Linked DNA regions of Homo sapiens. The protein of the gene in region 3 interacts with the protein of the main gene of each other region in a pairwise test. Each region holds a gene or a part of one and is shown on either strand. Other genes may lie near its edges. The genes, in order: ZBTB26, AMOTL2, L3MBTL2 and GPRASP3.

Region 1 (7,025 bases), on a different chromosome or scaffold from region 3:
ACTTCTGTAACAATGGATATCAGCTCCTGATGGCAGAGTCCAGGTTTTATTCTTATTCCTTAATGCCTGATACATAACAGCTCTCTCTTGGCTCCAGACCTAATGATACTTGTTTCCTTAGTTTAAAACACTACTTTCTAGGCTGGGCATGGTGGCTCACGCCTGTAATCCCAGCACTTCTGGAGGCCAAGGCAGGCGGATCACCTGAGGTCGGGAGTTCAAGACCAGCCTGACCAACTTGGAGAAACCCCATCTCTACTAAAAATACAAAATTAGCTGGGCGTAGTGGCACATGCCTGTAGTCCCAGCTACTCAGGAGGCTAAGGCTGGAGAATCACTTGAACCCGGGAGGCAGAGGTTGTGGTGAGTCAAGATTGCACCACTGCACTCCAGCCTGGGCAACAAGAGCAAAACTCCATCACAAAAACAAAAACCAAAACAAAAAACAAGCCAGGCATGGTGGCTCATGCCTGTTATCCCAGCACTTTGGGAGGCTGAGGTGGGTGGATCACGAGGTCAGGAGTTCGAGACTAGCCTGGCCAACATAGTGAAACCCTGTCCCTATGAAAAATACAAAAATTACCCAGGTGTGGTGGCACGTGCCTGTAGTCCCAGCTACTCAGGAGGCCAAGGCTGGAGAATCACTTGAACCTGGGAGGTGAAGGTTTCAGCGAGCCGAGATTGTGCCATTGCACTCCAGCCTGGGTGACAGAATGAGGCTCTGTCTAAAAAAACAAAGTAAAATAAAACAAACAAAAACACCACTTTCTAAACAATTGTGACTCCTTTATTTTCTCTGAGAGGCCCTTCCCTGACCGCTTAATAGAGTAGAATTGTCTCTTCTGGGCCCATTGCATACTTCTACTGTAACACTCAACACACTTTATTAAATACTTATTCCTTCCCATCCAAACTCCAAGTTTCATGGTATTAGGGGGAAGTATCTCCATCTAATGCTGGGAACTTGCATCTTCTAAGACAAAATATTCTTTACTTTTGCTTTGAATTATATTATACTTATTGCAGCTACATTGCTTGTCCCATTACTGGCCAAACCCTCTTCTGTTCAAATCAGTGTGTATTCCCATCGCCTAAGACTGCACTAAATACACAGCAAGTGCTCAGTTTGCATTAGTTGAACCTATCAGATTAGTTTGACAGTGGTAAGGAAGAACTGTTGTTAGGAAGACCAGCTTAGTGTCTGCAGAAGCATTGCAGGTCTGAGGCCATGATGGCCTAGAAAGAAATAAAAATGGGAATAAGACGAAAGGAAAAATAACAAAAGATATTTCAAAGAACTTGGTAACTGACTGGATATAGAGAATGAATAAAAGGAATGTGTAAAGATTCTACATTTAGGAGTTCATTTGAATGAGAATGGCATTGAAAGAAGGTGACCGGCCAGGCACAGTGGCTCACACCTGTGAGCACTTTGGGAGGCCAAGGCTGGTGGATCACGAGGTCAGGAGATCCAGACCATCCTGGCTAACACAGTGAAACCCCATCTCTACTAAAAACACAAAAAATTACCCGGCATGGTGGCGGGCGCCTATAGTTTCAGCTACTCGGGAGGCTGAGGCAGGATAATTGTTTGAACCCGGGAGGTGGAGGTTGCAGTGAGCCGAGATTGCGCCTCTGCACTCCAGCCTAGGCAACAGAGCAAGACTCCATCTCAAAAAAAAAAAAGAAAAAAAAAAAAGAAAGAGAGGTGAAATTTAGGAGGGGGAACTGGTGTGGCACCAATATAAGAAGAAGTAATAAGTATATTAATAAAAACACAAACAAAGCATAATCTTTCCCCTTGTATGACATTTTGAATGTACCGATAATCACAATAAATACAAAAACTGCATTGAGAGAGGAGCGATGTAGACAAGCAAATGAAACATCAGAGAAAAGACAGTGAGTATCAAACATGAAGGGAAAATGTAGAAGATATACAGGGAAAATGTCAGTAATTTAAAGCAGCAAAACTATTATCATTGGTCACTTTTAGCAACTGCAGTAGCTTAAAATACTCATTTTGGATTTGGAGTGATGAATGTTCCAATTTGTAACCAGAGTTGTAAAAATGACTGTTTCAAGTGGCCAAACAAAAGTGGCATTCTTTTTTAGCATTTAGCTGGTTTTGAAGGTGCCTATGAAACCCTCAGATCAGTATTTCCCTCCTCACACCCCAAAATAAGCATTCATTGGTTCTACCTATATTATGACAGTACTCACAATGCTTTAGACAACTATCCTCAGAGACAATTGTTCCTTGCTCTAAAGATGAAGAGCTGGAGTGTAGTTTCATTTAGTCATGTGTCATATGACAGTGTTTTGTTCAACAATGAACTGCATATACAATGATGGTCCCATAGAATATAATACCATATTTTTACTGTACCTCTTCTATATTTAGATACACAAACACCATTGTGTTACAATTGCCTACAGTATTCAGTATAGTAACATGTGGTACAGGTTTATAACCAAGGAGCAACAGGCTGTGTCATACAACCCAGGTGTGTAGTAGGCTATACCATCTAGGTTTGCATTAAGTATACTCCGTGATATTCACAAAATGATGAAATCACCTAACGACGCATTTCTCAAAACACATCACAGTTGTTAAGTGATGCATGACTGTGCTTCCTATCCATCAGTTCTCAAGAAAATTATCAACAACAGCAGCCAACCAGATAGTTCAGGGAAGTGTTTGCTTTGATCTGTCTGCTGTAGTCTAAGAATGTGAGCAAAATTTATTGGTTTCTTAAAGGATGTTTTCCCTAGGATGTGTCAGCCCACTCTATTGTCTCTCTCTGATAAATTCTTATTTCCAGGCCACACATCTTATCCCTTAATTGTTTCCTTTCACTAGTTTCTCTTTCCAATAGACTGTTAGTTATTTGAGGGCAATGACCAATGGTTTGTTATACTTTATACAGCTCATTTGACAAAAAACAGAAGAATAATGAGTTCTTAATGTTCCCCCATGAAATTATTACTAGGCTATGGTACAGATGCTCTTCATTATGATATCTTCTTTTGAGTGCCTAGGGAAAGCTTTCTTTCTAGGGTTTGTTACCAAAATAGTTTTGGCAATATAAAACCAAATTTCAACTTTCTTTTTTTTTTTTTTTTTTGAGACAAGGTCTCACTCTGTCATCTGTCACCCAGGCTAGAATGCAGTGGCGTAATCATAGCTCACTGCTGCCTTGGCACCAAGGCTCAAACAATCGTCCTGCCTCAGCCTCCTGAGTAGCCAGGACTACAGGTGCACACCACCACACCTAGCTAATGTTTTTATTTTTTGTAGAGGCAGGGTCTCGCTGTGTTGCCTAGGCTGGAGTGTAGTGGCGCAATCAAATCTCGCTGTAACCTAAAACTCCTGGGTTCAAGCAGTCTTCCCACAAGGCCTCCCAAAGTGCTAGGATTACAGGCATGAACCTGTTTTAAACACTTAAAAAAAATTTTTTTTGATAGTTAAAAAAAGTTTCTTATGAACCATCTTAATTTTATTTAAAAATAAGAGAAATGATACCTAATCTTCCTTGCTACATTTCAGGTATAGATGTTATACCTAAATTGACCCATTTAGGCCGAGCACAGTGGCTCATGCCTGTATTCCAGCACTTTGGGAGGCTGAAGTGGGCACACTGCTTGAGCTCAGGACTTTGAGATCAGCCTGGCCAACACGGTGAAACCCCGTCTCTACAAAAAATACAAAAATTAGCTGGGCGTGGTGTCATGCGCCTGTAGTCCCAGCTTCTTGGGAGGCTGAATGGGAGGATGGCTTGAGCCCACGAGGCAGACGTTGCAGTGAGCCATGATCATGCCACTGCACTCGTCTGGGTGAAAGAGCCAGATCCTATCACAATAAATAAATAAATAAATAAATAAATTGACCCATTTAATCGTGAAAATTTCTACAGGTAAGTATTACCATTATCCCACATTTTGTATATGACGAAACTAAGCTTAGAAAACATAAATAACTTGTAAACCCCAACGGAGGTTGAAAGTGTTAAGTGTTAGATCTGGAACTGGTGGTTTACACTGCATGATGCCAAAATCCAGGTATGAAACAACTAATCTAGGTACAATTTTTTTTTTCTTGTTTTGAGATGTAGTTTCACTCTTGTTGCCCAGGCTGGAGTGCAATGGCGTGATCTCGGCTTGCTGCAACCTCTGCCTCCTGGGTTCAAGTGATTCTCCTGCCTCAGCCTCCTGAGTAGCTGGGATTACAGGTGCCTGCCACCATGCCCAGCTAATTTTTTTTTTTTTTTTTTTTTGGAGACAGAGTTTCACTCTTGTCACCCAGGCTGAAGTGCAATGGGCTTGCCGCAACCTCCACCTCCCGGATTCAAGTGATTCTCCTGCCTCAGCCTCCCCAGTAGCTGGGATTACAGGCAGGCGCCACCACGCCTGGCTAATTTTGTATTTTTAGTAGAGACGGGGTTTCTTCATGTTGGTCAGGCTGGTCTCGAACTCCCGACCCGGGTGATTCACCTGCTTCGGCCTCCCAAAGTGGTGGGATTACAGGCATGAGCCACTGCGCCAGGCCTAATTTTTGGATTTTTAGTAGAGATGGAGTTTCACCATGTTGGCCAGGCTGGTCTTGAACTCCTGACCTCAGGTAATCTGTCTGCCTCAGCCTCCCAAAGTGTTGGGATTACAGGTGTGAGCCACTGCACCTGGCTGGTACAGTTTTATCTCAAGGATAATAATTGTGTAACTCGGCTAGGTGCGGTGGCTCACACCTGTAATCCCAGCACTTTGGGAGGCCGAGGTGGGCAGATCATGAGGTCAGGAGATCGAGACCACGGTGAAACCCCGTGTCTACTAAAACTACAAAAAAAAAAATTAGCCAGGAGTGGTGGCGGGCACCTGTAGTCCTAGCTACTCGGGAGGCTGAGGCAGGAGAATGGCGTGAACCCGGGAGGTGGAGCTTGCAGTGAGCTGAGATTGTGCCACTGCACTCCAGCCTGGGCGACAGAGCGAGACTCCGTCTCAAAAAAAAAAAAAAAAAAAATTGTGTAACTCTTCAGATTTCCTTCCTTACATTCAGTATCACAAACACAGGCCAAGAAAATTCATTGAGCTGCACACTTATGACTTGTATATTTTTGTTTTTGTTATGCTTCAAAAAAAGGTTTATGTTTAAAAACAAGTTATAACTTCAAGCCAAATTTGCATGAAATTAGAAGACTTAAATGGCAAGCATATATGTATTAGTCATATTCCTGATTGCATATTATGCCTTTATCCTTATTATACCTTTCTCATCTATTTTACTTTATATTATTTTCCATCTTTTGTGTATTTATCTTTGTGGACTGAAACTTAATGCCATTTGCAAATAAAGCAGACAATAAAAATTATGAATATATTTGATTTCACAATCCCCAACTGTAGGTAACTTCTAAGTATAGCAGTAATTACTCAAAATAATCATAAAAATCACTCAGATAATTCTAGGTTATAGTCAAGCTTCTTGTAACTGAAGGAAAGTAAAGAACTGATCAGGTAGATCAGAGACACAGTCATCATATTTTGTTGATTCTTTCCTCAGAATGATCACCAACTCCTCACTCCTCCATTCTTACATCATTGCCATAGTTCAGGTCTTTATTATCTATTGCCTCAGTTACTGAGATTAAATCTGAATACTGTTGAGTTTCTATTAGCAAGTTTTGAATGATATTTCTCAAACATCAATGTAATGGGAATATTCTCACTTCCTCTTCATTTATATTTATACAATCCTTCCACAATTATAACTAATTTGAAATTTTCCCTTTGTTCAAATGAGGATAGTAAAAAATGACTAATTACTGAATATTCCAGGTGGGACAATGTAAATTGCTATACTACAGGCAGTGAGAAAATAGTTTCTTTTCTCAAATGCTTCTAATAACTACTGGCAAGTAAAATTTTTCTATCTGTATAATAAATTCTTAAGCTAGGTATCAGTTTGCTTCCTCACCTGTCTCATAAAAGTGCCCTTATCTTTCAACTTACCACTCAAAACTACTTGGAAATCTTTGTCCCTCATTGACATGGTATGTTCTTTTTCTAAAGAGGCTGTATTATACTACAGCCTTTCTCTCTATAAACCTTAATCTTGTTCTTCTTTTAGGTAACTTTCATGACACGATACTCTCCAAGTTATCAAGCTTTTGTTTCAACTTTTAAGTAATATATACAGAATGTATTCTTCTTGAAAAATTTTTGAAGATTTTAGATGTAATTCCCCTTCTCAACTGCCTACCACTCAGTATTCAGTTTAAGTTTGATCCTTCCTGACTCTCCCTCCTTGCATTTTGTTTATTTATTTATATATTTATTTATTATTTTTTGAAACGGAGTCTTGCTCTGTTGCCCAGGCTTGAGTGCAGTGGTGCAATCTTGGCTCACTGCAACCTCCACCTCCGAGTTCAAGCAATTCTCCTGCCTCAGCCTCCTGAGTAGCTAGGATTACAGGCATGCACCACCAAGCCCGGATAATTTTTGCATTTTTAGTAGAGATGGGGTTTCACCATGTTGGCCAGGCTGTTCTTGAACTCCTGACCTCAAGTGATCCATCCGCCTCGGCCTCCCAATGTGCTGGGATTATAGGCATGAACCGCTGTGCCCGGCCCCTCCTGGCATTTTAAAAACAATACTTCTATATGTCTAGCCACAAAAGTATAACGTAATTAAGTTTCTTATACATAAACTATACATATTGTTTTGCAACTTACTTTTTTCACTCATTGTTTTTGAAAGCAATTTATGTTGATGAATATAGATTTAATTCTTCTTTTGATTTTTTTTCATTTTTTGAGACCAAGTCTCGCTCTGTTGCCCAGGCTGGAGTGCAGTGGTGTGATCTCGGCTCACCGCAACCTCAGCCTCCCAGGTTCAAGTGATTCTCATGCCTCAGCCTCCCACCTCCCAAAGTGCTGGGATTACAGGCGTGAGACACCACGCCCGGCCTAGTTCTTTTTTTTGAACTGTTATGTGGAAGTGGGCAAATTACTTAACTATTGAACTGTTTT
Region 2 (7,025 bases), on a different chromosome or scaffold from region 3:
ATTGTCCAGGCAGCTGTGTGCAAGCCAAAGAAGCATGAGGACACTGGAAGACTCCTCGGGGACAGTCCTGCACCGCCTCATCCAGGAGCAGCTGCGCTACGGCAACCTGACTGAGACGCGCACGCTGCTAGCCATCCAGCAGCAGGCCCTGAGGGGTGGGGCTGGAACTGGGGGTACAGGGAGCCCCCAGGCCTCCCTGGAGATCCTGGCCCCAGAGGACAGTCAGGTGCTGCAGCAGGCCACCAGGCAGGAGCCCCAGGGCCAGGAGCACCAGGGCGGTGAGAACCACCTGGCAGAGAACACCCTCTACCGGCTATGCCCACAGCCCAGCAAGGGAGAGGAGCTGCCCACCTATGAGGAGGCCAAAGCCCACTCGCAGTACTATGCGGCCCAGCAGGCAGGGACCCGGCCACATGCGGGGGACCGAGATCCCCGTGGGGCCCCGGGAGGCAGTCGGAGGCAGGACGAGGCCCTGCGGGAGCTGAGGCATGGGCACGTGCGCTCGTTGAGTGAACGGCTCCTTCAGTTGTCCCTGGAGAGGAACGGCGCCCGGGCCCCCAGCCACATGAGCTCCTCCCACAGCTTCCCACAGCTGGCCCGCAACCAGCAGGGCCCCCCACTGAGGGGCCCCCCTGCTGAGGGCCCAGAGTCCCGAGGACCCCCACCTCAGTACCCTCATGTTGTACTAGCTCATGAGACCACCACTGCTGTCACTGACCCACGGTACCGTGCCCGCGGCAGCCCGCACTTCCAGCATGCTGAAGTCAGGTAACTCTCCCCACCTTGGGCTTTCCAACTCCTGGCTTTCTTCCAGCACAGGTCTCTCAGGGAGGAGAGCCTCAAGATCACAGCTTGTGTCAGAGCTAGCAAGATCCACCCCACCTCCAACCTGAGAAGGGAGAGCTAATGCCTGGCAGAGAAGAGGGACTTAGCTGAGGTCCCCTAAGAAGTTAGTGGTGTCCCTTGCCTTAATTCAGAGATAGGCACCATTGTCTGCTTAGCTGTAGCATTCAAGTAACTAGAGTCCCCAGAGTACACAAATTGCAGCAGGGGGTTAAAGGTTAGATTTCAGAAAGAACTTCCTAAAGGCAAGGTTGGGAATGATTGCCAAACTGTTTCCAAGTTAAGCAGGAAGAAGGTGGGACTTCCTTCTCTGGAGATTTTTTAAGAAAATATGAGCAGCTTGCTTTCTGTGATTATTGGGAGGCATTCCTAACTAGAGGCTGGAAAGGCCCAGTGGTCTGATTAGAGACCTCTCAGCATCTTACACCAGGGCAGGAGCTTACTTGTCTCTCCTCTTCATTTCCTGCCATATGCTCCCTGCGTCTGCAGCCTGCAGTGGGAAAGGATTCTGGGTCCAAGTGGGCCCTTTTCTGGTGAGGCTCAGGAGAGGCTGCTGGGCCATGGTAGGGACTTAGAGTTTGATTCTGAGTGTGCTGGGAGGCCCTCAGGGGATGTGATTTGGTTTACCTTTTCTAAATGCTCTCTCTGGCTACATGCAGAGCATGGTTTGTAAGGGGCCAGAATGGAAGCAGGAAGACCCGGGGAGGCAAGAAGTCTAGAGAGTTTGGAGAAATAAGTGTTCCTAGAAACAAGGCCCTGCCTCACGCTTCTCATCTTGCCCAGCATCTTTTCCAGAGAAGCAGACACAGCCATCACTGCTGCATCTCCCCCTATGGGAGTCCAAGAAACCCCACCAAGGGACCCCAAGGATTTCAGACTCTTCCTCTGGTGGCCCAAGGTCAAAGTCTGGTTCTCTTCATGCCTGCTGTGTTCCTTTAGTAAACACCCACTTTCCCACCGTCCGGCTTTCCTTGCTCTCGAGAAATGAGTGACATGATGGGGTTGGTATGGCGGAACCAGAGGTTGGAGCCTCATAGTTTTTCTCCAGCCTCCACCCCTCCAGACTCGCACTTTATCGCCCCTCTCAGGGCTCGGTCAGGAAGAGTTTCGGAAGCTGAGTGGTGGTTTCTTCTTTTGGACCAGCCTTATTGAACCCTGTCAGGAAAAGATAGTAATCACGGCAAGGAAGTAGACTGTTTGCAGGAGAACAAAAAGCAGGGGAGGGAGAGGACGAGGAGAAAGGAAAGCAAGTGTGAAGGGAAAGGAGTTGCTATTCTTTCTCAGAGCTAAGTCATCCCCAAAGAATGCCAGTTGTGTCTGCCTGGCCCAGTGCAGGGGGGAGCAAGTTCTTGAAGCAACCTTGAGAATGGCCATTTTAGCAGTGGAATGGAGAGTTTGAGCACTCCAGTGGGGACCCTCTTCCCAGCTCTTACTGGAAGCCCCACCTTAGGTAGTAGGAGAAATACATCTGCCCAATATCTCCTTTCAGATGATCCAGTGAAGATTATTTGTTAGGAAACGGGCTAGACTCCTAGCCTAGGGTCCTGAGAAGAGCAGGGGGGCCATAGGCTGCATGGCAGCAAGAGTCAGGGGCAGGCTGGGTGTGCATTAGTGCTGAGATGATGCACCCAGAAGGGGAATTCGGTTTTTGCGGGGCTTCTGGGACTTGGAAGATTCTTTGTGAAACTGAGGCAGTTGTGACACTGGGAATCACAAGGTCCCAGGAAGGCCCTTGGACTCCCCGTGCCTCTTGCCCTTTGCTCCTTCCCTCAACATGGAGCCCTGGGGGTGATGTTACACCAGTGCCAGAGGCCAATAGAATATTGTCCCCTGAACTCAGTGACCACAGTAGTCCAGAGGCAGCCCTTACTCCCAAGGAAACCAAGAGTTTGGGCCACATTTGTTCTCTAAACTGAGGGTAAACTGAGGCTCCTACTAGAAGAGATGGAGGATGGGCCACCATTATAGGAGCACCTGCCACCCGCCCAGCACTGGCCCAGCACTCTGCCAGGCCTTACATAGCGTCATCCTCAACAAATCCCAGCGAGGCTGGAGACCCTCATGATGCAACAGAGCAATGCCCAGTCTGTGGGGCTGAGGCACTCGCCCAAGGTTAAACAGCTGGAGCAGGGATTTGAACCCCTATTTGTCAGACTCTAGAGCTCAGACTCTTACCCTGACATTTGTCTCATTGCTCTAACCTTAACTGGAGTCTTCTAAAAATGACTCTGGGTGAGTGGGGGGTGGGGGGTGGCAGGACTTGAAATAGGAAGGAGAAAATGAGTGCTGCTTTGGCAGTCTTGAAACTGGCGACTCGTGTAATAGACACAAGGTTGCTGCTGGGGCCCAGCCACCAAAGTTGTCCTGGGGCCTGGAAGGTTATATGCTCAGTCATGATTGACATGGCCTCCAGCCCCAAAAATAACCTTCCATTGATTAGAAGTGTCAGGGTGCATTTTTTAAGATGATGTATTTAAGCATTAGTTGCTTAGGAGGCCCAGGATTGCTCAGGCTGATCCCCAAGGCCCCAGCCACTGTGAGGCGGGTATGAAACAAGCATCCTGACATTAATCCCCTCTAGCCCTGCTGTCTGACTCTTGAGAGCCTCAGGCAGAAACATTTGGAAAAGGCCTTCCCTACTGGTCCCTGCCTAACACTAGAGGGTTGAATAATTATCTGCAGTAATTTTAATAATATATTAATTATTGATAATAATTAACCATCTTCCCAGTATGCCTAGGAGTGGGGTGACCCCGGGCTGCTCTGGTGGGAGCCATGAGGGTCTGTGCTGTCTCTGAGCACCGTCTCTTCTGTTCCCCAGGATCCTGCAGGCCCAGGTGCCTCCTGTGTTCCTCCAACAGCAGCAGCAGTACCAGTACCTGCAGCAATCTCAGGAGCACCCCCCTCCCCCACATCCAGCTGCTCTCGGCCATGGCCCCCTGAGCTCCCTCAGTCCACCTGCTGTGGAGGGGCCAGTGAGTGCCCAGGCCTCCTCAGCCACCTCGGGCAGTGCCCACCTGGCCCAGATGGAGGCCGTGCTGAGGGAGAATGCCAGGCTGCAGAGAGACAATGAGCGGCTGCAGAGGGAGCTGGAGAGCTCTGCGGAGAAGGCTGGCCGCATTGAGAAGGTAGGCCCTGCTGGGGCTTCAGAAGGGCAGACCAGAAAGAGACCCCGAGGGGCTACCTGGGGAGTGGGTAGTCCAAGGAGAGGCAGAGGAGCCTGAAAACTGTTTGGCTGGATTTCTCCCTATCCCTCTGTCTTCCACCTCCCTCACTCCTCATGCACCCTCCTGAGCTGACTCCAGACAGCTGGGGAACAGCCGAGAGGCCGGCAGAGCAGGCCTGGAGCATGAACAGTTGCTGGCCAGTGGTGATTAGAAAGAGCCCATTCACCAGCTCCTTGCACACTCGCACCCTTGCCCTGCACACACCCCCTCCCATGGACACCTCCCACAGAGAGCCCTTTGTGTCCCCCACACAACAGCAAGTCTGTTCCAGGCCAGCCCTGGCCAAAAAGAAAACTTCTCCTCTTGGAAAAAAAATGGGCGACTTGTTGGAATCACAGGCCAGCTAAGAGCACGTGCGGAACCTGCCAGCAGCCAAGTGGGAGGAGCAGCCGGGGCCCAGCTGGCCCTCTGGGTGGATGGTGATGCCTGGGACACCAGGCAGAGGCAGCTCTGCCTGGTGCCCGCTTCTTTAGTGAAGGGTTACCAGTTTTCCGCTGAGGCTCAGTTTTAGCAGATGGCCTCAGGCCTCCCTTGACTGTCCTGTGGTGTCCAAGTTAGGTCAAACCACCCCATCATGGCTGGAGTCTTTCGGTGCCCACTTCTGGCCAACTGTACTCAGTTTCTTGGTGGAAGCCAGCCAAGAGTAGAATGTTTCCTTCTGGACACTGGGCACAGGGAAGCTGTGTTTAGTCACCCCGCAGGCAGCTACTTCCAAAGTACCTGGCCCTGGGTTCACTCAGCATCTGGTCCTTGGGGCAGCCGATGGGACCGTTGCTTGCTGGTCCCAGCAGTCTATTCTACTTCCGGAGGCTACAAGCTTCTGACCATCCCACCATAGTCACCTGGAGGTTTTGCTCCTGTTTGGTGGCCTCTCATCTGTCACCTTTTCTGATGGAGAGTAGTGGGTCAGCCTCGAATCACTCCCTGGGAGCTCTCGCCTTCATTCAGCTCTGCTGTCTGACTCTTGCAGCTGGAAAGCGAAATCCAGCGGCTCTCTGAGGCCCATGAGAGCCTGACCAGAGCCTCCTCCAAGCGTGAGGCCCTGGAGAAGACCATGCGGAACAAGATGGACAGTGAAATGAGGAGGCTGCAAGACTTCAACCGGGATCTTAGAGGTGAGAGCCAGTCACACAGGTGGAGGTTGGAGAACCTCTGCAGAGGACTTACTTCTTTTGTTCTAGAGAAAAATTGGGAATCTCTATTCTCTGTCAAAAGTGCAGATGAACTCAGAGAGCCAGGCTGAGACCCCTTTGGAGCTGCCCTGATAGAGAGATGCTTGTCTCTATGTACTGGGCCTAGGATCCCCTCAGGGATGATGGCTCTTGACAGAGGAGGCTCCCACCCATGGGGCCCTGAGCTGAGCTGGGGTTTCCTTATGAACCCATCCCCAATATGGAGGATACAGCCCCATCCTGATAGGACGTCAGGAAAAATCCCAAGCTGGCAGCTTCACCTGACACTAAAACATCTTTCCTTCCCTTGAAACAGAGAGATTGGAATCTGCAAATCGCCGCCTGGCAAGCAAGACACAGGAGGCCCAGGCCGGCAGTCAGGACATGGTGGCCAAGCTGCTTGCTCAGAGTGAGTAGGGGCCCCACTAAGAAGCCTGGCCTGTGTGCAGGCAATGGGACTGCTGCACACCCTCTGGACTAGGAAGATTGGCCTTCCCCCTTGCAAAGTAGTACTTTGGGAGCAGGTTTACTGCCCACTGTATGCCCAACACTAGACTGGATCTGGGGATAGTGGGGATAAGTGGCTTCCAAAGAAGAATAGGATCTAGTTCTGTATCTTTTAAGAAGATCAGCTGACACAAGAGGGAAAGCCAGGGAGCAGTGATTTGCTGAGCTTCGGTGCTGACCACCAGTGCAGTGCATTGGGCAGTGCGGGAGGCAAGGTAGCCCTGAAGACAGATGAGGTGAAGGAGAAGGACAGGTCTGAGAGCTTCCCAGGGAGTTCCTGGCAACAGAAAGGTCGGGAGTGTGCAATGGGAATGTGAGAGGTAGGGGGGCATGGTGGAGCTGAGCCATAGCAAGCCAAGTGGAGGCATCTGAGGCAGCCAAAAATGGGATCCTAGACCTTAACCAACAGATGCATTCTAAACGGGGCGGTCTAAGCATCCTTGAAGAATGGGCAAGTTCATTGACTAGTCCATTTATTCATTCATTAGCAGATGTGTTTTAAGCAACTGGCAGATGTTCAAGAGAGAATGGGAGCAGGCCCAGGAAGGTACCATGGCAGGGAGGTCAGGAAGGAAGTGGTGAGCTTAAGAAAGGAGCAGGTTCCCACAGATGCAAAAGAACAACGGGGGTGGCCCTAGAAACCGGTGATTAGGAGCCCCGGTGGCCTGAGAGAGGGGCTCTGTGGGGATGGCAGGGGTGGAGAGCCAGCCAGAGGTGAAGGAGCTATTGGGCAGTTCAAGAGGTACATGGGGTGGGTGGCAAAGGGAGCCCTGAGCTCAGCAGCAGGAGGCTCTAGCAATCAGAAGAGACTAAGAACAGTTATTTATTGAGCTCCTACTAGGAGCTTTAGTGCTGTTCAAGGTGTTTGCAGAGAAGTGGAATGGGAGTGGTTGGTAGCTGGGTAAACATGGCTTTGAGTCTTCACAGGAACCCTACTGTGAATGGCACAAAGGGTAGTGTGGGGTGCAGAAATGGAGGAGCAGCTTGAGGACTTAGCTCTGGCTGGCAGCACCCCTATCTTCCTTCAAAGAGGGTTCAAAGACTAGGGCAGGGAATGGGGGAACACAGCACTGAAGGAATTGACAGGGTGGGGCAGGAGGTAGGCTGGTCTCTTCTGGCTGGGTGGGGTGAGATGGCAGCGGCTTAAGGTCTCTGGGAAGGAGTCAAAGGGAAGGAGGGAGAAAGGGGAGGGGGCAGCCCTGGGGTTTCCCTGAGGAGTCTGGGGAGGAGAAGCTGCAAGGGCACGGCAGATTAGGGTGCCTGTGGAGGAAGGCGG
Region 3 (7,025 bases):
AATGTCAAGCCCTTAGCAAGTACTCCCAAACCATAGCTATTAATATTACCAATATTATTCTTAGCTCTCGGAAGAGAGGGATCTTTCGGTGCCTTAAGTAAAATCTACAAAATGGGGAAACAATGGTAATTGTCTCACAAAGGCGACAGTGTATGAAGCAGTAAGCAGAAGGATCTGGGACACAGCAATTTCTAATAAACATCGGTGGTGCTCAAACTTCGCTGCACATTAGGATCACCTGGGAGCTCTTCCAATCTCTGTCCAGGCTACACACCATCCCAGTTAAATCAGAACCTTTCGGAGTAGGACCCAAGCATCAATATATTTTACATAATATTTTCCCCCCAGGCTGGAGTGCAGTGGCACGATCTCGGCTCACTGCAACCTCCACCTCCCAAGTTCAAGCGATTCTCCTGCCTCAGCCTCCCGAGTAACTGGGACTACAGGCGTACAACACCACGCCTGGCTAATTTTTGTATTTTTAGTAGAGACGGGGTTTCATCATGTTGGCTGGGATGGTCTCGATCTCCTGACCTCGTGATCCGCCCGCCTCGGTCTCCCAAAGTGCTGGGATTACAGGCGTGAGCCACCGTGCCCGACCAGCATCAATAATTTTTAAACTTTCCAGGTGATCCCAACATGCAGGCAAATTTGGGAAGCAGTGTTGCAGATGCTGGTCCCAGCTACTGGGAAACAAGGTAAGATGAGGCCCCTGAGATGAGGTTCCAGCCTCAATTCCGCCATTCTCCTCCTACAGAGCCACACTAGGTATGTCATTCTACCTCCTTGGACCTCAGTATACTTATCAATAAATGTGTGGGTTCAACACCACATCCAAGAATCTTTCCATCTCTAAAGATTCTATAAATATCAGTAATTTAGAAAATTGGCAAGACTTTCTAGGTAGCTGCCTGTGACATGGAGTCCGAGGAGGCATGGTCTTCCTGAAGCCACCGTGGCTGGTGAACCTTGGGCCTGTTTCCCAACTTCCTTTGAAAGGATTTATAAAAGTGTGGGGTGAAGACCAAGGGTGTCAGACTCCCCCATAGTTCTTGTTTAAAATGTACTGAATACACCAGACTCTGGGGGATGATGGTAGGTAATGGAGCGTAGCTTCAGGAACCTATAATTTAAAAAGCTCCACAAATGGATTCTACTGTCCTCTGAAGTTTGAGAACATAATAAATACCAGCTGGCCACAAGCAAGGACCTTTTCAAACTTTCCTGGCCCTGGCCTTCAGTCACTTGGTGGTTCCTGTCTCAGCACCAAAGGCACCGGGAAGGATCCAAGTGATTGCCTCTCACCTGTAACCTAGCCAAGATACTGGCTTTCTTGGAGTTGGAGGAGTAGCTCCTGGAGCAGGAGACGCTGCAGAACCTCTTGGTCTTGGAGAAGAAGGCTTCCCTTGTACCCACGATACCACACATCTCACAGACAGCTGGGAAGAGAACTTAGCACATGACTCACCCGATATGACCACCTCAAAGCAAACAAAGTGATGGGCCCTTCAAAACCTGGGGCACTGCATTAACCAGGTGAGCCCCTGCCCCCACAAAGGCTAATGGAATAAGAGGAGGAATGGGAGGTACTGGTGTGTATATCCTGAATCTACCTGAATGAAGTGCTGCTGCTTGGCCTCCCTTGGCTACAGATGTCAACAGAGGGGCTAATGGAAATCCATGAGGACGACTGGGGGAACAGGTGAGTGTTGAAAAGTTTGTCAGAGGAAAGTGAGAAGAAACTAGGCATGGTAGCTCCTGTCTGTAATCCCGGCAGTTTGGGAGGCCAAGGAGGGAGGATTGCTTGAGGGCAAGAATTTGAGACCATCCTGGGCAACATAGCAAGACCTTGTTGCCCAAAAAAAAAAAAAAAAGGCCAGGTGTGATTTGGCGGGGGGAAACTGCCTGAGCCCAGGAGGCTGAGGCTGCAGTGAGCCATGACTGCACCACTGTACCTCTAGCCTGGGCAACAAAGTAAGACACTGTCTCAAAAAAAAGCGAAAAAATTTATAGGAAGAAAAAGTGCCAAAGTCACTTAACCTCTGTGGCTCTATTTTCTCATCTATATAGTAAAGGGACTGAACTAGATCAGTGTTTTATTTATTTATTTTTGAGACGGAGCCTTGCTCTGTCACCCAGCCTGGAGTAGTACACTGGCGCAATCTTGGCTCACTGCAAGCTCTGCCTCCCGGGTTCACGCCATTCTCCTGCATCAGCCTCCCGAGTAGCTGGGACTACAGGCACTGCCACCACACCCAGCTAATTTTTTTGTGTTTTTAGTAGAGACGGGGTTTCACCATGTTAGCCAGGATGGTCTCAATCTCCTGACCTTGTGATCCGCCGTGTCGGCCTCCCAAAGTGTTGGGATTACAGGCGTGAGCCAATGCGCCCAGCTAGATCAGTGTTTTAATCGTGACTTCACTTTTTTTTTTTTTTGAGATGGAGTTTTGCTCTTGTTGCCCAGGATGGAGTGCAGTGGCGCCATCTTGGCTCATTGCAACCTTCGACTCCCGGGTTCAAGGGATTCTCCTGCCTCAGCCTCTTGAGTAGCTGGGACTACAGGCATGTGCCACCACGCCTGGCTAATTTTTTATATCTTTAGTAGAGACGGGGTTTCGCCATGTTGAGCAGGCTGGTCTTGAACTCCTGACCTTGTGATCCTCCCGCCTCGGCCTCCCAAAGTGCTGGGATTACAGGCGTGAGCCACCATGCCTGGCCCGTGACTTCACTATTAGACCCACCTGGGGAGCTTTTAAAAATGCCTGAGATGGCCGGGCGCGGTGGTGGGCGTCTATAATCCCAGCTACTCCGGAGGCTGGGGCAGGAGAATCCCTTCAACCTGGGAGGCGGAGGTTGCAGTGAGCTGAGATGGCACCACTGCACTCCAGCCTGGGCAACAAGAGTGAAACGCTGTCTCAAAAAAAAAAAAAAAAAAGCCTGAACCTAAAATTCTAATGAATTGGTCTGTGACGGGATACTGGTACCTGTAGTTTGTTAAAAGCTCCCCTAGATGATTCTAATGTGCAGAACCCCTGGTCTAAGTGGTCTCTAATGGTTCCTTCTAGTTCTAAATCCTAAGATTCTAAGAGAAGGGCTGGAAGAGGATAGAAGGGAGAAAGATAAAAGGCAAGGGATGAAAAGAAGACAATATAAATAGAAAGGAAGTAAGGCCGGGAGCGGTGGCTCACGCCTGCAATCCCAGCACTTTGGGAGGCTGAGGCGGGCGGATCACGTAGTCAGGAGATTGAGACCATCCTGGCTAACACGGTGAAACCCCGTCTCTACTAAAAAATACAAAAAATTAGCCGGGCATGGCGGAGGGCGCCTGTAGTCCCAGCTACTTGGGAGGCTGAGGCAGGAGAATGGCGTGAACCCGGGAGGCGGAGCTTGCAGTGAGCCAAGATCGTGCCACTGCGTTCCGGCCTGGGTGACACAGCGAGACTCTGTTTCAAAAAAAAAAAAAAAAAAAAAAAAAGGCCGGGTGCGGTGGCTCACGCCTGTAATCCCAGCATTTTTGGAGGCCGAGGAGGGCAGATCACAAGGTCAGGAGATCGAGACCATCCTGGCTAACATGGTGAAACCCCGTCTCTACTAAAATACAAAAAAAATTAGCCGGGTGTGGTGGCAGGCGCCTGTAGTCCCAGCTGCTGGGGAGGCTGAGGCAGGAGAATGGCTTGAACCTGGGAGGCGGAACTTGCAGTGAGCCAAGATCATGTCACTGCATTCCAGCCTGGGTGACAGAGCAAGACTCCGTCTCAAAAAAAAAAAAAAAAAGGAAATAAGATTCAACTGCAAAGAGTATTAGATTACTCTTCTAACGAGTTTGGGGCTGGGTGCGGTGGCTCATGCCTGTAATCCTAGCACTTTGGGAGGCTGAGGTGGGGGATCACTTGAGCTTGGGAGTTCAAGACCAGCCTGGGTAACAGGGCAAAACCCCTGTCTCTACAAAAAAAAAATACAAAAATTAGCCAGGCATGGTGGCGTGCACCTGTAGTCTCAGCTACTCAGGAGGCTGAGGTGGAAGGATTGCCTGAGCCCAGGAGGTCGAGGCTGCAGTGAGCCATTTTCACACCACTGCACTGCAGCCAGGGTGACAGAGTGAGACCCTGCCTCAAAATAAAACAAAAAAAGTTTGGGATCTAAAGGATGGCAGTGTCCTCACAGACTATCCAGCCTGCCTCTCTTCACAGGCAGCCCACACATGGGAGGCCCTGACACAGGGGTTCAGCAGCTGTCCAAGCATCACATTTCCAAAGTCAACTGGCTTCCAGATGATCCATAGGGATTCTCATCTGCCCGCCCCCAACCCAGTCCTCCTACCCAGGGTCACTTTATCGTGTATTACCTTCCCACTCCCACCCTGACTTCCAAACCACAAGTTATTTGTCCCTTCTCAGAAAGTAACCAAAACACTTTAGGTTTCCTATCTTCTCAACATCCACGTTGGAAATCCATGGTATACTTATACAAAAAAGCAGCACCATGCTACTCAGTGGCATCTAATCTGTGCTGAATACACATTAGTTATATGAAAGAATGAGTGAAGTCACAATTTGAAATTAGACTAGGGCCGGGCACAGTGGCTCACTCCTGTAATCCCAGCACTTTGGGAAGCTGAGGTGGGTGGATCACCTGAGTTCAGGAGTTTGAGACCAGCCTGGCCGACATGGTGAAACCCCGCCTCTACTAAAAATACAAAAGTTAGGCTGGCGCGGTGGCACACGCCTGTAATCCCAGCACTTTGGGAGGCCGAGGCGGGTGGATCACGAGGTCAGGAGATCGAGACCATCCTGGCTAACGTGGTGAAACCCTGTCTCTCCTAAAAATACAAAAAATTAGCCGGGCGTCATGGCGGGCGCCTGTAGTCCCAGCTACTCAGGAGGCTGAGGCAGGAGAATGGTGTGAACCCGGGAGGCAGAGCTTGCAGTGAGCCGAGATCGCGCCACTGCACTCCAGCCTAGGCAACAGAGCGAGACTCCGTCTCAAACAAACAAACAAACAAAAAAATACAAAAGTTAGCTGGATGTGGTGGTGGGTGCCTGTAGTCCCAGCTACTTGGAAGGCTGAGGCATGAGAATCACTTGAACTCAGGAGGTGGAAGTTGCAGTGAGCCGAGATCATGCCACTGTACTCCATCCTGAGCAACAGGGCGACACTCAAGTCTCAAAAAAAAAAAAAAAAAAAAAAAGAAATTAGACTTCAGCAAAGGAAGTTAACACAGTGGCTACTTGGGGTGCTTCTGTCTCCCTTACAGGTCCTTACACATCTGATCCCTTAGAAATCAGAGTTAATAGCCTTTTACATCTGGATGGCTCTGCCCATATAGCCTATATCCACCCCCCTCTTCCTCTATAATCTTCTATCTCCTCTCCATCCTCAGGGGACACTCTGAAGGCACCTGGCTCAGAACCACTGCCATCCAAGGAGCGAGGAGTCCCAGGGCTGAGCAAATGCAGCGGGGAGGTCGGCAGTTCCCCTGCTTCCCGATCCTCATTTTCTGCTTCACTTGACTCCTCCAGATAGGAGCTGCTCTCACTGCCCACACTGCTGTTATAACTCCGGAAACTATCATAGCCACCAAACAGCTCCAAGTCGTCATCTTCCTCTTCCTCCATTGGTTCTGAAGATGGGGTCTCCTAATGGAGGATGACACAAACCAGGTAGAAAGAATTATGATTGGCTTTAGTGCACGGGGGGAGAAGCTGCAGATCTGCTATCAGCCCCCTCACACTTTCGGGAACCTTTCAAATACCCCTTTTACAAACACCAAGATCATTACTTCTATTTACACATTTCTCCACCATGATGCAATTCAACAGCTTAACAAGACAGAAAATATGTGTTAGGAATTCACCAGGCTCCTCTGTGGATTTACAAATGATGATATTTTAACATGGTTCAAATAGAATACTGTATAACAATGTGGGCCAGGTGCGGTGGCTCATGCCTGTAATCCTAGCACTTTGGGAGGCCGAGGCTGGCAGATCACCTGAGGTCAGGAGTTCGAGACCAGCCTGGCCAAGAGGGTGAAACCCTGTCTCTACAAAAAAATACAAGAAAAAATTAGCCAGGCGTGGTGGCGGGCACCTGTAGTCCAGCTACTTGGGAGGCTGGGGCAGAGAATTGCTTGAACCCAGGAGGCAAAGGTTGTAGTGGGCCAAGATCGTGCCACTGCACTCCAGTCTGCGTGACAGAGCAAGACTCCATCTCAAAAAAAAAAAAAAAGTGAAATATCCTAAGGTACTTCACAAAGACTTTCTGGGGTAGAAGATATATTAGAAATTAATTCTTAGCCAGGCACAGTGGCCCACACCTGTAATCCCAGCACTTTCCGAGGCCAAGGTGGGTGGATCACGAAGTCAGGAGTTCAAGACCAACCTGGCCAAGATGGTGAAACCCCGTCTCTACTAAAAATACAAAAATTGGCTGGGTGTGGTGGCGGGTGCCTGTAATCCCAGGTACTTGGGAAGCTGAGGCAGAGAATTGCTTGAACCCGGGAGGTGGAGGTTGCAGCGAGCTAAGATCGCGCCACTGCACTCCAGCCTGGTAATGGAGTGAGATGCTGTCTCAAAAAGAAAAACAAAAATTCTTCCCCGTTCAATATACATCAAAATGATCTCAACTCAGAAACAATTTAAGTCACAGAAAAGTTAATTTGGGACCTAGACTGCTCCAAAGAGGATGGGAGAGGCAGATGACACACAGATAACTGTGGCATCTTGGTGTGTACTACAGCGCTAGATTCAGCTCTGAGCCTAACTAGCTATAGGGCCTTGGGCAAGTCATTTAACTTCTGTGGGCTTCAACTTTCTCATCTATAAAATAAAAATATTTGACTCGTGAGATGCAAATGAGATAATGTATATGAATCTACCCAGCATGTAACAGAAAACGTGTGAAGAGCCTGGGTACGGTGGTTCACATCTGTAATCCCAGCACTTTGGGAGGCTGAGGCAGGTGGATTGCTTGAACCCAGGAGTTTGAGACCAGCCTTGGCAACACAGCCACACCCCATCTCTACAAAA
Region 4 (7,025 bases), on a different chromosome or scaffold from region 3:
TATTTTCGACACTGCCAGATAAAATCCATCTATTTACCTCAGAATTTTCTCCTGACCTCCAGCCAGATGTAGCCAAATGTCTAATGGACACACGAATTTGGAGGAAGTTAAGAATTGTAACACCTGGCATGGACATGATCCATTGCAAAATTAAACCATTCAAACCAGTCTCTGAGCTTTGAAGGCCCCCCCACCTCAAAATGTCCTTCAGGAAGACTGTAAAGCAGTGTGGTGAGATGGGTTCTGGTGTCAGACAAAACAGCTATGCCACCTTCCTGCTGTGGGAATCTAGGAAAAGGTATTTAACCTCTCTAATTCTCATTGGAGGGTACCCAGAATAATGAGTTCTAATAAAAATATAAGTAACTAACTCACAAGATCACTGTGAGAAGAGGAAAAAAACTTGTAAAATATGGTGCCAACACAGTGTTTGACATAGAATAGGCACTCACAAAACGTTTCCTGCCTTCTCTTTTGTGAGATAACTTTGATGTAAATGAAACAGCCTAACAATTTAAGAGTTATGAATGTAGTAGCAAAATTAAAATTGAACAAATAATACATTTTGTCTGAGATTCTGAGTCATTTCTGTGTTGCGGAACGAGTATCTGATACAGCTGGAACAGGAGAAAAATAGTTTCTCTTACATTAAATAGCCTATAGGAACTCCTGCCTCCTTTATGTAGAGTGCGCACATTTGGCCATGAGCGTGCACGTGCACACACAGAGACACGCACACTCACACACACTCTCTCTCTAGGTACTGTTATCTTTGTGTGTGTGTATGCCTTACTTCTGTAACTAGATTACAAACTCAAGGATATTTTCTTTTTTGCCATTTTAAGCCACAGATACTAATGAACAAGTTAGCTTACTTAAAACGAACTGGTTTGCTATCTTAAGTAAAATGTTAAAAATATGCCAATCTAGACAAGATAAAAATCAAACATTTTCAGCCCAAGGTATAATATTCATTTGATACCCCCAAAATAGTCTAGCTCAAACCTAGAGCCTGTCACAGGTGACTCTGTGTTAAAGATGCAGTGTATAATGTGTACACTGTAATGTACAGCCTGCTAGAGTTTGAAGATGGCTTAAAATGTTCTATCTCTGGCTCATTTTACATTGTTTCAATAATCTCTTTAACTTCCCTGAAAATGGCCATGAGTGTATTATAACTCAAGTGATCAACAACTACAATTGAGCCTTTTCTGATATGCTCCTTTATGTTAATAAATATGGCCACACCACTAACAAGATTGGCTTTTGCCTCTTTCTGGTTAAAGATGAGTTTTAATGCTGCCAATGCCTTCATATTGATCATGTCTCTGGCTGCAGTTGGATTTTCAGACATATTTAAAAGTAGTTTCAAAACAAGATTTCTGGTTTTGCAATTTCCTGAGGACAGCAAATGGAAAAGCTCTGAAAAGTAATTGGCAACAATGTAGTGATGGACAAAATCAGTAGTCAGTTGTCCTAGTATCTTTAATCCAGATTGCTGTCCCGGTGAGTTCAAAGGAAATGACATGGTTTCTTTACACATATGCTTAACATGTAATTCAATTTTGCGTTGTCTTTCATCCCCAGAAGGAGGATTCAGAGTAATTACAGTCTTTTTTCTCATTTCAGGGGAAGGAAAACTGAGCAAGCTTTCAATAAGTGTCACTACACCTACTTCGTTAATAAACTCTTGGGCAAATGGGTGAACATTATGGACACCCATTGCAATCCGTGCTATTTTATGAATAAGAGGATCAGTAGTTGACTTAAGTAAGCTAACAAGTTTTTCAAATTCCTCAGAATCCATATAGCATTCCATTTTGCAAGGACAAGCAAATGGCTTAATCCCATTTACCTCCCTGATCCTGATTTGACGTCTAATCTCATCTATGGTCTGGATGCAGGGGTCAGAATCAAAACGACACTCAGGGATAGGCTGTGAGCATGAGCGAGTGTTCCTAGAAGGGCGGCAAGCTGTTGCCACAGGCAAAGAACAGGCATTTTCTTCAGCGGAGGCCAGAACAATATATGAAGGAGGGCTTGCCTCAGATGGTGCCTGGGATCTAAATCCTAACACAGCTGGAGTTACAGCAGGGGCATTGGGCCAGATAGTTACCTCAGACCAGTCCTTGGGCCTATTTTTTTCATTAATTTCATACACAGGCTGAGGCTTAACTATCCTGCTCACAGGTTTAGGATTAGGGTCAAAACTAGTATCATCTCCTTCCCAAAACCAGTTCCCAATAACATTCTCTTCCTCCTCCTCCTCAGCCCCTGACCTAGGTTTGCAATCGGCCCCAGCCGCAGGTTCCAACTCCTCAGCACAGACCTGGGCACCAATTTCAGGTTTATCATTCTTAGTGCTGAAACTATTACCAGCCTCTTCTCCATTCCAGAACCAGGAATTGATAGTGGCCTCTTCCCCAGCCCAGAACCAGGCATCAGTACCAGCCTCATTTTTACATGTGGAGCTGGTGGACTCATTCCCAGCCTTGGGAGTGAAATCTCCCATGGCTTTGCCCAGAGTCTTAGGCTCTGACAGAGCTCCTTCCTTCGTCTCAGCAACAACCTTGTTCTTAGACACTGCCTTCATCTCTGCTACTGCATCTGTCTTAGACCCTGTCTTGGCTTTTGCTTTGGCCCTGGTCTTGGCTACAGGCCTAACAACACCAGTAGCCTCCCTCTCTGCTCCAGCTTTAGCTTGTATAGCAGCCTTTTTTTCAGTTTTGGCCTGGGCTCTTGTCTTATTCTTAGTCCCAGCCATGGTTGAAGCCCAGTTATATGGCCCTGTCCAGTCTTGGCCTTGGTTCTCAATGTGTCCTAGGTCGAAGTCTTAACACTCTTTCACTGGGTCGGGGAAAAACTTGGTAGCAAGAATTAGAGTCAACTGTCAGTTCTGCAGTCACAAAGTTCTCTTTCCAAACATACAGCCTCTGTCAATGATACAGAGGGCAGAGGCACGCTCGGGCTGGGGGAGAATGATTGTTCCCAAGTGCAGACCTGCTGAAGGTGATGGTCTTCCAACAATCCAAAGCCACCACAGCCACCAGTGGAGATGGACCTGAGGTTGAAGAAAGAAACTGGCTTTGAGTCTTGTCTAACTGTGCTTCTCTATGCAAACAGCCACACAGAAGGACATAGGAGAGTAGAAATGAATTGTGTAGAAGTGGATTAATAAAAAACTCTGCTACTTAATTTTATACCTTGCACACTGCCACTAATGCTCAACAATGTCCTGCCCAAGCACTGTCATTCTTTTACTCTGCATCAAACAGGAACAAAGATGGCAGGTAAGCTTGCTGAGAGTGAGAAAGGCTAAAGGAGTGCCCAGTCTCTTTGGACCCATGCTAGTAGGTCCACCACTAAAATATATACCACTAGACCTCATAGGTGTATTCAGGCAGCACTCACACCAACCTGCACTGATCTAGTGCAATTTTTCCTCCTTCCCTGTTTGCAGTGTTGATATGCCCTATAGTTAACTCATGGGCAGGCCTATGGACAAAAATACAGATGGGATTGGAGTTCTGAGTATTTGGTTGACAGACCTACACTCTAATCTCTAAACCCAATTTCTGCCTTTCCAAATCTAGGGCTTTGGTTATATAACACTTCTGGCCTCCTAGTACTCCTTGTGGCTTATCTTCCCATTTCCTGCCCCAATATCTACCAATTACCTCATAGGCATAATCCTGGCTCACCCCACCCCATCACTTGTACACAAATGTGAGGTCAGAGGTGACTAGAAAGATGGAAGACAGTGGCACCAAGATATGATCTGGTCTAACCCACTTGGCAACAGCCTTTCCATAACCCCAATCAACGGGGGTGCTCACACATAAACCTACCTTGAATCCAAATGAATAGTTTTTGTTCTTTCTTAATTAACTTCCAAGTGAACAGCTACATACAGATCTCTACAGGAACCTAGAAAGAAACAGACCTAAGGATAGAAAGGAAGGCAGAGGAAAGAAAACAGAAGAGACTAAGATGATCTAATGCCTATAACAAGGATTATAACATATGCTTTTGAATATTCAAGGCTATGTTAAATGTCTCCCACCTGTCTGCTCTTCCTCAATGATTCCCTAATCACCCCAAGACCTGCAGCCTGATTACACCTCCTGCCAACTTTGAAGTCAGTCATTTTCCCAATAGAAGTTACAGCTCCTTTCCTGAACCAAAAAAAATGAGGTGCAGAAATAGGTAGTGGAACATAGGCAATTGTACTTACAAGGCAGGCAGGGAACATAATGGAGACTGTTATTTTAATACCATCTGTGCATGTCCTTCCCCTTCCCCATGCATACCTAGATCCTACTTTATTCACCACCTATGTCAGCCTGCTTATACAGCAGGAGTTCTCAGGAGATGCTATCCTTCCCACCAAAGAAGAGTCACGCCCTACAAAAAGAAGGCGGAGCAACTAGCAAAAAATAACCCCAAGAGACTATGTTAACAATGGTAGAAAAATAGCAGGTTAATGGACAGATTCCCAGAATTCGGATTCTAACACCTCCTTTTTGAGAATCAGAAACTAAGTAAATAAAGTCTCCCAACTCTCATAGCTCCTCAGATATCCACCATCAGAAATGCCATGAATTCTTCTGTGGGACTATTTCTGCACCAAAATGAGAGGGTCTGTGAGGAGTGGCTGGAGATGGAGTTTTGGTTTCCAGAACCATAAACTGAAGAAGCAGATTGACTTCAAATGTTCTAAATTGACCCTTCAAAAAGATTACCCCTCTACTCGGAACCCACATTCTCACACATCATTACATTACTTAAAGTGGATCAGCATGTTGAGAAAACAGATCCTGAACAAGAAAGGTGGAAAAATACTACCCTGTTATTTACATGGACCACTGTTGTGAAATTCGACTAAGTCCACACCCTATTTGCTTGCACAAAACTGGATGTGGGGATCTAAATATGTAAGGCAATAAAACAGTGCGGTATTATAAAAGGCGGTTAAACATTTCATTTTAGTGTCTTCATAATTCACCCACTCAAAGTTCCACTTTTGGAGAACCCAACAGACCTATCACGCAGACAGGAGACTTTAACAACCACCTGGAGCCTGTGGGAAGGGACAGCACCCAAGACACGGGGTCCCACAGGCCCCTTTCCGGAATCAGGGCCCCGAGTAGCGAACGCGGCCCACCTCTCGTGGGCTGGGCACAGAGCTGGGACGCCGGCTCCCCCCGGCCTTCCCGGGAGCCCCCCACAATGGCTCCCGCTCCGCCATTTCTCCCGCAGGAGCTCCCCCACAGCCCTTTCCGGGCACAGACACCGTCGAGGGCGGGGCGCCGGCGCCTGCAAAGCTGGCTTGGAGGCGGTCAGCGCGGTTCTCCTCCAGACGATCTGACGGTGCCTCTCAAGCCAGCCCCTCAGCCCTTGGCCTGGCTCGGCCTGCACCGGTCACCGCCTCCCCATCGCCAGGGGTCTCGAGCACTGCGCACCTCTCTCCGGCGACCGGCTCCGACCGGATCGTCTCCTCCTTGCCAGGATGTCAGGGTCGGCGGGGCAGGCTGCCAGCCGGTCCACCCTGGCGGACCACCCCAAGCTCACGCACCCCCACTTGCCTTCAGAGGCCCAGGGCCCAGGTCGTCGACCTCCCCCTCCTCTCCTCAGCTCTCCTCTGGCGGCTCCTCACTTCGATTCTCACCGCTTTCCCCGCTATCAGAATGGCAAAGACGCGTCCCGCCCCCCACGCCTCTGCACCAAACTGGGCAGGGGCTGCGCAGGATGCTGCAAGAACCGCTCTCTCCGCGAGGGTGTCGGGAAGGGGGGCGGAGGGATACGGCGCGAAAGTGCTCGACGCCCCCCTCTCAGGCCCACCTTAGTTCCGACCCAGAGGTGGGCGGGGCCATGACGAGCCCCAGCCTGGGCCTGCGGGTTGGCACCAGGCTGCCTCAGGAGGACCCCCGCGGACCCTAACGTGGCGACCACCACCACCACATTTCTGGCGTTGCTATAATATAGGGACGGGCGGGCGGCTGGGGACCCAGGCAGGGGACAGGATCAGGAGGTTGGGAAGAGCCGCGCTGGAGGGAGCAGCGGATGGATACCAAACCGCCCCTTGGTGTGTCTGCACCCCCGCCCCAACTCCCCAACCAGGGACTGCTGGGTGTCTGCCCCTTCCCTCTCCCCAGCCCTCTCACTCTCCTTCCTGGAAGCTAATGGGAGAGGGGGTGTCAGCAGTGCAGTCTGGGAGGGGTGAGGCGATTTCAGGCCAAACAAGCCTGGGCCTCTAGGGTGGTCCTCTTGTGCGTTTCTTTCCCAGCTTCATGGAGCCACGCAGGGGAGGAAGGTACACCTGCTCTTAAGTGAATTCTGGGGCAGGGGGCTCCCATCAAGGCCTCACCACTGCCCCTCTTCTAACAGAAGGTAGACCTAGACCTCTAACCCTAGGAAACCAACCACTGGTCTGTACCAGACTCATTTCTTTCTGCCACGCCGCTTTTTCTCATTTCAAATGGTGGCTCAGGTTGGCATTGCGCCGTCCCCACAGTTGACCCCAAAAGAGGGCCTTTCCCTGTCAGGACTCGCAGGAGGTCGTAACAGTCCTCTCTCTTTGATGGCACCAGGTAGGGATGGTCTTGGCGCCTCTCCACTGTTCTGGGAGGAGAGGGGACCACTATTCGCGCACTTCCTCGAGGCAGATCCCAGATTCCAGCTGCGCTCCTCAACTCCTCCTTTTCTCCCAGCCTTGCACCCTGCCTAATGCATGCATGTGCTTTTTTCTTCTGAATATATATATATTTTTTTACTCTCCCTTCCAAGCGATGGGGAGTTTGACTTGTTAGACTGGAAGTTTCCTGAATGAAAGTACCCTTTTGGTATTGTTCCCCACTGTATTCTCAGCACATTGTAGACGGTATAGTCAGTCAAGGGTTGAAGGAGGTGAGGGGCTACTGAATCATGACAATTCCATGGTACCCTCTGTGGTTTGCAGATCAATGCTAATTCATAGGTGTGTCTTTGCTGCCTGTAACCCCAGGGCTTAGCCCAGAGTATGCCAC

What was found.
Region 1: the proteins of L3MBTL2 (region 3) and ZBTB26 interact in binary tests that used the Homo sapiens proteins (3 or more experiments, as listed by UniProt).
Region 2: the proteins of L3MBTL2 (region 3) and AMOTL2 interact in binary tests that used the Homo sapiens proteins (3 or more experiments, as listed by UniProt).
Region 4: the proteins of L3MBTL2 (region 3) and GPRASP3 interact in binary tests that used the Homo sapiens proteins (3 or more experiments, as listed by UniProt).

What each region holds. Positions count from the first base shown.
Region 1 is NC_000009.12:122,921,510-122,928,534, forward strand, and holds part of ZBTB26 (zinc finger and BTB domain-containing protein 26), read right to left. Parts: intron 1-7,025. UniProt on the Homo sapiens protein: May be involved in transcriptional regulation.
Region 2 is NC_000003.12:134,364,443-134,371,467, reverse strand, and holds part of AMOTL2 (angiomotin-like protein 2), read left to right. Parts: coding exon of another isoform or gene 1-34; coding exon 35-768; intron 769-3,605; exon of another isoform or gene 3,606-3,664; coding exon 3,665-3,971; intron 3,972-5,040; coding exon 5,041-5,185; intron 5,186-5,558; coding exon 5,559-5,651; intron 5,652-7,025. UniProt on the Homo sapiens protein: Regulates the translocation of phosphorylated SRC to peripheral cell-matrix adhesion sites. Required for proper architecture of actin filaments.
Region 3 is NC_000022.11:41,208,307-41,215,331, reverse strand, and holds part of L3MBTL2 (lethal(3)malignant brain tumor-like protein 2), read right to left. Parts: intron 6,211-7,025; exon of another isoform or gene 5,637-6,210; coding exon 5,399-5,636; exon of another isoform or gene 5,381-5,398; intron 1,703-5,380; exon of another isoform or gene 1,440-1,702; coding exon 1,306-1,439; exon of another isoform or gene 629-1,305; intron 1-628. UniProt on the Homo sapiens protein: Putative Polycomb group (PcG) protein. PcG proteins maintain the transcriptionally repressive state of genes, probably via a modification of chromatin, rendering it heritably changed in its expressibility.
Region 4 is NC_000023.11:102,744,735-102,751,759, reverse strand, and holds part of GPRASP3 (G protein-coupled receptor associated sorting protein 3), read right to left. Parts: intron 5,782-7,025; exon of another isoform or gene 5,586-5,781; intron 3,944-5,585; 5' UTR 3,849-3,943; intron 3,062-3,848; 5' UTR 2,765-3,061; coding exon 1,121-2,764; 3' UTR 1-1,120. UniProt on the Homo sapiens protein: Survival and differentiation promoting protein that plays a role in the regulation of neurosynaptogenesis. Induces phosphatase PP2A activity which results in APP dephosphorylation and inhibits BACE1-mediated processing of APP.